2 separate regions of the Homo sapiens genome follow, and region 2 is linked to region 1. Evidence: fine-mapped expression QTL. A gene starts in region 1. The other region holds a variant in brackets. All regions are shown on one strand. Distances are from middle to middle. Region 1 holds the start of FHL3 (four and a half LIM domains 3). Region 2 overlaps SF3A3 (splicing factor 3a subunit 3).

Region 1 (4,382 bases):
CAAACAAATATAGATGCACATATATTTAATAAAGTTATTGAATAATCAGGTATGTCAATATATGTAAAGTGTTCAGGACTGGTGCAAAGAAAGAACTCAGGAAGTACTGGCTCTCATTAAGGCTATTTAGGAGAGATTAGAGCCATGCATCAAGAACAGAGATTCCAATACTCTGCCTTTTATCAGGCCCCTTCTGTACTCACTCATAACCCCTTGCTTTCTGAAGGCTCCCCACCTTTGCCCTCCCGTCCCCCAGAGCTGACCTCCTCTTGGTACCCACTCCACCAAGGCTGAGTAGTCTTCACTGCACTCCCCTGGGCTGGGAGTCTCTTACACCTGCAAGATACATCCCAGAGAGGCTGGGCATGGTCACTCATGCCTGTGGTCCCAGCACTTTGGGAGGCTGGGGCAGGCAGATCAGATCTTGAGGTCAGGAGTTTGAGACCAGCCTGGCCAAGATGGTGAAACCCCGTCTCTACTAAAAATACAAAAAAAAAATTTAGCCGGGCGTGGTGGTGCACACCTGCAGTCCCAGCTACTTGGGAGGCTGAGGCAGAAGAATCGCTTGAACCTGGGAGGTGGAGGTTGTAGTGAGCGGAGAGTGCGCCACTGCACTCCGGCCTGGGCAACAGAGCAAGCCTCCATCTCAAAAAAAAAAAAAAAAAAAAAAAAAAAAAAAATCCCAGAAAAAGGCCCCATCCATGGGCTGGATGCTCACTGCCTGGACTCCAGATAGCAGGTGCCTGTGATCCAAACCGAGGATGTTAGAGGGGCATACATACTGAAGCAGTGTCTGGTATCCATTCATTCATCAGATGTTTATTATGTGCCGGATATTGGAGTAAGTACTGAGAAGGCAGTGGGGAACAAAACGGAGCCCTGCCTTCATGGCTCTTACCATTTAGGCAACAACAGCAATAATAAGCAAGCAATGATTTAATTTTGAAAGGAAACCAGACCTGGTGGGTGACTTGGGACCCAGGAACCCAGGCATGATGCAGAGATGGGACGGAAAGGTTCTCAGGAGCCCCAGCCTGGGAGGGTGTTAGTTCCTCCGTGAGAGCTCTGCTACACCCAGCCTGGGGTGTGGGGAGGCCTCTGTGGGCACCTGAATCTTCACTCTAGATGCTAAGGTTATTCCGGGGTTGATTTGTTGTCTCTTGTTTCCACAAACAGCACAGTAGAGCCTCCTGCCTCCCTCCCTCCCCCACCTCTTCCAGACTGAGGCTATTTATTCCTAGTGACAAGCCTGAGGATCCCAGGGGGGGTGGCCTTAAGGACCTGGAGGGGCCTCGTGTCCCTAGCAGGCGCCAGTCCTCCCTCACGGACACAGGGAGGAAGCCAGAGGCTCAGACACCGCAGAGGTCCCCTCCCCTCTCCTCCACCACCCCTGAGGTGCCCCATCCTCTCACACTCCTCACACCCCACCCTAGAAGCCCAAAGATCATGGGGCCGAGGATTAGGGTCTCCCCCGGGCCTCAAAGGTCAAAACTATTCCTGGGCACTGCGGAAACCCAGGCAAGGCAGGACTTCTCAGTGTCAGGAGGCTGCTGGAAGTGGGGAGGTGGTTACCCCTGTTTTTGCTACTCAAAGTTGTGGAATAAAACCCTTTGGAGGTCAAGGCCCTATGGTGGGGAGGGGTCCTCTCTTCGTCCCATGTTTTCAGAGAACACCTTGGTGCCCGCTGACAGGCTCATGACAGCAGAGTCAAAACGTCCTCCTCCAGGCTGGATTAAGGCCGGGCTGAGTGTCACCCCTGGGGTAAGGTGAAGGGGTGGGGGGATCCGAGGAGGCCAGAGGACTCCCCCAGTGGACCATGGTCTGCGGGGTCTCGTGTCGCCGGCCTGAGATGGAATACAGCAGTCTCCCTCTGGCAGCTGGGGATGGGGGGTGGGAGGGGAGGAGAACAGAGGCTGCGGGGAGGGGACAGGGGCGGGGTCCCGGCCGCTTGAAGGTTGGGAGAGCCAGGTTAGGCCGGGCGGGAGGAGGGGGCCGGGCCGACTGGCGGCCGAAAGGGAGGTGGGGGCGGGGTCTGGCCCCCGCGGCGGGCTGGGGGGCCGGGGGCGGGGTCCGGGCGGGGCGGGCCCGCGCTCACTTCCTCGGGGAGGGGTTGGGGCCGCGCTCCCACTCGCCCACACGGTCCGTCTGCAGTCGGCAGCCTCGCCGGCAGCTCGCTCGGCCCCCGCTTGGCCCGGCCCGCAGGTAGGAGCCGCCGAGGGACGCGGCGCCCGGTTCCCGGCCCCGCCTGCGCCGCGCGCTCCCCGCTCCCGCCGCCCGCTTCGAGGTGAGCGCCCCGCCGACCCCGGCTCCCAGCCCTGGCGGTCCGCCCCCGCGCCCAGGCCGGGGAGCGAAGGGACCCGCGGAGGGCTGAGGCCAGCCGCGGCCCCGGTCCCCTGTACCCGCCGGGCTCTGGCCACGGGTGCCCGGGGCACGCCGAGCCCGGGACAGCGCCCGCCGGGACTGGACCCCTCCGGGCTATCGGGCGGGGCGGGGGCGGGGGCGGCAGCGAGAGTTGGGCGGGGGAGGGGGCTAAGTTTGAAATAGAAAAGCCGGAGAGAGACAGACAGACCGACCGACCAGAAGCGCTGGAGAAACTGAGGTTCTCGGAAAGCCCGGTGGAGCGAGAGACCGAGACAGGCAGGGACTCGAGGCACAGGAGGCTACCGAGACCACTGAAACAAGGACACACCGGGCGTACAGAGTTACTGGTGGACAGACCCGAGGCATGGGGGCCGTCCTAGGCTTTGTGGAGCATTTTCAGAAAAAGCATACGTGGGACCCCAGCGAACACATTCCCTAGGGCCCTTCCCCGGGCCTTGGAGGTGCCCTGAGGCTTGGGCGTCATTGGCCTCATGCTGAATCTGCTCTCTGAGGCCTGCAGAGACGCTCAGAGACTAGAGACAGAGACATTCAGGCGTGCAGAGGTGGCGAAAGAGACTTGGATGCAGAGACAGAGAAAGGGAGGTGGTGGGGATTGAGACATTCAGCCATGTAGACAAGAAGAGACCAAGACTTGAGATCCACAGAGGCATGGGCCCCCTGGGGGACAGCCAGTCAAGATACAGAGCCGTCCAAAACCTAAAGACAGAGACTGAAGTGTGCCCAGACACAGAGATGCTGAGTGAAGCAGAGACAGACACCAGAAACTGAGACTAAGTGGGGGCAGAGAGACCTAGGTGGTCTGACAGCTTCCAGGACAGCCCCTGACTTACCCGGGCCTGAACCATTGGGAGGTGAGGCTGTGGGGAAACAGAAACTCTGAGCCTACCGATCCCCCATGAGGCAGAGGCCCTGAGACAGTAAGTTCGAGATCAAGAAGAGCCCCACGCACACACACAGCCACCAAGACAGCCCCAACTTATTTTTGAACTCAAATCTTGGATGGGCTGCCTCAGCCCTGGGGGACCCAGGGTGAATGAACTGTTCCTCTCATGTCCCCAGAGCAGCTGCGGGATCTTGCTCCCCAACCCCCTTCCCTAAACTTCTCTGACTTCCAGGCCACATGGGGGAGAGCAGAGCTTGGGGTTGGTGCCCGGTAGCAGAGGGTGAGGGTTGAGGGAGTTGGATTTCTCCCCTTAAGTCTCCTGTCAGCTTCTAGAAGGTGGGGGAGGGGTCTGTTCTGATCCTGACTCACAGCTGTGGGACCTGGCCAGGGTCCTCCTGGACAGTGGGCATGTTGGGGGTGGGGGCAGAAGGATTGAATGGTTGGCATGGGGCATTGGAAAGGCTTCTGGGTGTCTTCCAATCACAGGGCTAGCAGCTGAGGAGAAGAGCCAGGCTCTGGTGCATCTCCTGTTCCCCTGCCCTTAAAAACTGACCACCCCCATGTCACCATCCGCTTCATCACCAGGGCAGCATTTTTAGGGAGAGGGAAGAGCTCTGGGCTGGGAGGCAGGGGACCTGGGTCCTGATCGGGACCTTGGGCATGAACCTGCTCTATTCCTGGCCTCCTTGTGCTCAGCTGTAAAATGGGGATGATACTCTGTCCTGCCTGCCTTTTGTGAGATCTGATGAGATTGTGGTGGGCATGGACTTTGTGAGTGGCAAAGCAGCATGCAGGTGTCTACATCCGTGGACCTGCATGAGAGATCTCAAGAGTTAAGCTTACTAGAGTCAGGCTGACCGGACTGAAGCGACCACTTTCCCCACTGGTGTCCTCAGCAAGCCCCATGGGCCTGGGGCCCCCTATTCTCTCCCTGGGCCTATGCTGAGAATGTCCAGGTCAAATTTCAGACCAGGCTGGGCACAGTGGCTCACGCCTGTAACCCCAGCACTTTGGAAGGCTGAGGCCAGAGGATCACTTGAAGCCAGGAGTTCAAGACCACCCTGGGCAACATAGTGAGAACCCCATCTCTACAAAAAATAGAAAAACCTAGCTGGGC
Region 2 (4,382 bases), 40 kb after region 1:
ATTGCATTTCTGTTTTTTGTTTTGTGTTTTTTTGTTTTGTTTTGAGATGGATGGAGTCTCGCTCTGTCGCCAGGCTGGAGTGTAATGGTGCAGTCTTGGCCCACTGCAACCTCTGCCTCCCGGGCGCAAGCGATTCTCCTGCCTCAGCCTACCGAGTAGCTGGGACTACAGGCACGTGCCACCACACCTGGCTAATTTTTTTTTTTTTTTTTTTTTTTTTTTTTTTTTGTGACGGAGTCTCACTCTGTCGCCCAGGTTGGAGTGCAGTGGCATGATCTCGGCTCACTGCAAGTTCCACCTCCTGGGTTCATGCCATTCTCCTGCCTCAGCCTCCCGGTAGCTGGGACTACAGGCGCCCGCCACCACACTTGGCTAATTTTTTGTGTTTTTAGTAGAGACAGGGTTTCACAGTGTTAGCCAGGATGGTCTTGATCTCCTGACCTCATGATCCGCCCGCCTTGGCCTCCCAAAGTGCTGGGATTACAGGCATGAGCCGCCACACCTGGCTAATTTTTTGTATTTTTAGTAGAGACGGGGTTTCACTGTGTGAGCCAGGATGGCCTTGAACTCCCGACCTCAGGTGATCCGCCCACTTCAGCCTCCCAAAGTGCTGGGATTATAGGCGTGAGCCACCATGCCCAGCCTTTGTTTCTGAGACGAGTCTCACTCTGTCACCAGGCTGGAGTGCAGTGGCACGATCTTGGCTCCTGCAACCTCCGTCTCCTGGGCTCAAGCAATTCTCCTGCCTCAGCCTCCCTAGTACCTGGGATTACAGGCATGTGCCACCATGCCCAGCTAATTTTTCTATTTTTAGTAGAGATGGGCTTTCATCATGTTGGCCAGGCTGGTTGAGGTGACGAACTCCTGACCTCAAGTGATCCACCCATGTTGGCCTCCCAAAGTGCTGGGATAACAGGCGTGAGCCACCGCGCCTAATTATTGCATTTTTTTTTTTTTTTTTTTTTTTTTTGAGATGGAGTTTCGCTCATATTGCCCAGGCTGGAGTGCAATGGTGCGATCTCGGCTCACTGCAACCTGTGCCTCCTGGGTTCAAGCGATTCTCCTGCCTCAGCCTCCCGAGTAGCTGGGATTACAAGTATGCGCCACCATGCCTGGCTAATTTTGTACTTTTAGTAGAGACGGGTTTCTCCATGTTGGTCAGGCTGGTCTTGAACTCCTGACCTCAGGTGATCTGCCCACCTCGGCCTCCCAAAGTGCTGCGATTACAGGCGTGATCCACCGTGCCCAGCTAATTATTGCATTTTTAAGAGAAATGAATTAGTCGGCAATACTGATTGTTTCTCCTTTGAGAAGAGCTCTGTGCTGAGTATAAACCAGGGCTTTTAGCCTGGGTCTGTGAACTCCCTTTTATGCAAGATTTTGATTGAATGGTTGTATGGATAGTTTTCTGAATTGATTTTAATGTGTTAAATAATGACTGATATAAAGGAAAATATAGAAGTACCCTCAGTAAGCTTGTGTTAGAGGCTATAGAAACACAGCAGCAAAATACCTCTTGAAGAAAGTGAAGCGGAGTGCATGTCAGGGAATGTGCTGCTGAAGCACATAGAGGACCACCGCCAGGCTTCCTGTTTTCCCAGCAGTAGTAGCTTTCTCTGCCATTAACATTTTCATGGCAGCCTTTTCTTTTCTTCTTTTTTTT[TA/A]ATTTAATTTAATTAATTAATTTATTTATTTATTTTTTTGAGACAGAGTCTTGCTCTGTCACCCAAGCTGGAGTGCAGTAGCGTGATCTCAGCTCACTGCAACCTCCACCTCCTGGTTCCAAGCGATTCTCCTGCCTCAGCCTCCCGAGTAGCTGGAATTACAAGCGCTCGCCACCACGCCTGGCTAATTTTTTTGTATTTTTAGTAGAGACGGGGTTTTAGCATGTTGGCCAGGCTGGTCTCAAACTCCTGATCTCAGGTGACCTACCTGCCTTGGCTTCCCAAAGTACTGGGATTACAGGCGTTAGCCACCGCGCCCATCCCGGCTTTTTATATTCTTTTCAGTGGATCTATGTCACATTTCACTGTTGGCTGATTAGACAGAAGTAAGGTATTTTACCCCCCCATCCCACCCCCCACTGTTAAATTACAGGCACTTTACTCTCAGTTATGTTTAGCAGGCTGTTCAGCTGTTTGGTCAGCTTGAACCTTGGGCTTCCAACTCTGTTGCCCAGGCTGGAGTGCAGTTGTGCCATCACAGCTCACTGCAATCTCTGCCTCCCAGGCTCAAGTGATCCTCCCACTTCAGATTCCCAAGCTGATGGGACTACAGGCTTGTGCCACCATGCCTGGCTAATTTTTGTATTTTTTGTAAAGATGGTGTGTCACCATGTTGCCCAGGCTGGTCTTAAAGTCCTGTACTCAAGCAATCTGCCTGTCTCAGCCTCCGAAAGTGCTGGGATTGCAGGCGTGATCCCCGCCCAACATGCAACATGCTACAACCTGTCATTTGAAACTGTTTATATTGACAGAGATTATCTCTTCAGTGGGACTGCGCTAAGATTCTTTAACTTATATAATTTCTTGACTTCTTATGACAAAGAAAGCAAGTGCTTTATAAAACTATTCTGAGTTTATTTTCTTTTTTTTTTTTTTTTTGTGCCGATGGGGTTTCCTTATGTTGCCCAGGCTGGTCTCAAACTCCTGGGCTGAAGTGATCCTCCCACCTTGGCCCTACAAAATGCTGGGATTATAGGCATGAGGCACTGCACCCAACTTTATTTTTTTATTTTTTATTTTTTTTTGAGACAGAGTCTTGCTCTGTTGCCCAGGCTGGAATGCAGTGGCTGATCTCGGCTCACTGCAACCTTCGCCTCCTGGGTTCAAGCAATTCTTGTGCCTTAACCTCCCAAGTAGCTGGGACCACAGGTATGCACCACTACGCCCAGCAATTTTTGTATTTTTAGTAGAGACGGGGTTTCACCATGTTGGCCAGGCTGGCCTGGAACTTCTGACCTCAAGTGATGCACCCGCATTGGCCTCCCAAAGTGCTAGGATTATAGGCATGAGCCACCATGCTCATGTTAAGAGAATGACTGATATAAAGGGAAAAATAGAAGTGCCCTCAGTAAGCTTGTGTTTGAGGCTATAGAAACACAGCAGCAAAATACCTCTTGAAGAAAGTGAAGTGGAGTGCATATCAGGGAATGTGCTGCTGAAGCACATAGAGGACCACCGCCAGGCTTCCTGTTTTCCCCGCAGTGGTAGCTTTCTCTGCCATTAACATTTTCATGGCAGCCTTTTTCTTTACTTCTTTTTTTATTTCATTTCATTTAATTTCTTTTTTAATTTTTAAGACAGAGTCTTGCTCTGTCAACCAGGCTGGAGTGCAGTGGCGTGATCTCAGCTCACTGCAATCTCCACCTCCTGGTTCCAAGCGATTTCTCCTGCCTCAGCCTTCCGAGTAGCTGGAATTACAGGCGCTCGCCACCACGCCTGGCTAATTTTTTTGTATTTTTAGTAGAGACAGGGTTTTAGCATGTTGGCCAGGCTGGTCTCAAATTCCTGATCTCAGGTGACTTGCCTGCCTTGGCTTCCCAAAGTGCTGGGATTACAACACGTGTGTCTTAAAACAGTCTTTCCTCTTTCCACAACGCCTTACTGCCTTCTTTGAAATCACACTTATCACGTAATTTTTTAAGGGTTAGTCATTAAGAGTCTTTCTAGAAAGAAATCGTGTTCTCTTAGCCATACAGAGTTTGTTTTTGTTCTTGTTTTTTATTTGAGACGGAGTCTCGCACTGTCGCCAGGCTGGAGTGCAGTGGCGCAATCTCTGCTCACTGCAACCTCCACCTCCCGGGTTAAAGCGATTCTTCTGTCTCAGCCTCCCAAGTAGCTGGGACTACAGGCGTGCGCCACCACACCCAGCTAATTTTTGTATTTTTAGTAGGGATGGGGTTTCACCATGCTGGCCAAGATGGTCTTGATCTCTGACCTCATGATCTGCCCGCCTTGGCCTCCCAAAGTGCTGGGATTACAGGCATGAGCCACCATGCTTGGCTCTAATTTTTTTTTTTTTTTTTTTTTTTAAGAATATCATTGGCAGGGCCAGGCGCAATGGCTCACGCCTGTAATCCCAGCACTTTGGGAGGCTGAGGCGGGCAGATAACAAGGTCAGGAGATCGAGACCATCCTAGCTCACACAGTGAAACCCCGTCTCTACTAAAAATACAAAAAATTAGTCGGACGTTGTGGCGGGCGCCTGTAGTCCCAGCTACTTGGGAGGCTGAGGCAGGAGAATGGCGTGAACCCAGGAGGCGGAGCTTGCAGTGAGCCGAGATCCTGCCACTTTACTCCAACCTGGGCGACAGAGTGAGACTCTGTCTCAAAAAAAAAAAAGAATTATCATTGGCAGTTTCATGATTCTTCAATTGTATT

The links. PIP is the estimated chance that this variant, and not a neighbour inherited with it, causes the effect. A credible set is the group of variants that fine-mapping cannot tell apart.
Region 2: its variant is the best candidate, but not a certain one, in a credible set for the expression of FHL3 in T cells (TOPMed, PIP 0.76).

The regions. Positions count from the first base shown.
Region 1 is chr1:38,003,259-38,007,640 of GRCh38, reverse strand. It overlaps FHL3 (four and a half LIM domains 3), which reads left to right and starts at 2,127. Exons shown (of 6, transcript NM_004468.5): 1 at 2,127-2,284. RefSeq lists silencers at 2,007-2,066, 2,097-2,456 and an enhancer at 3,309-4,117.
Region 2 is chr1:37,963,524-37,967,905 of GRCh38, reverse strand. The region is part of intron 15 of SF3A3 (splicing factor 3a subunit 3); the gene reads left to right. Among named protein-coding and RNA genes, the nearest start is that of INPP5B, 19 kb to the right of the region's middle. The variant TA/A (reference allele first, on the strand shown) is at 1,664.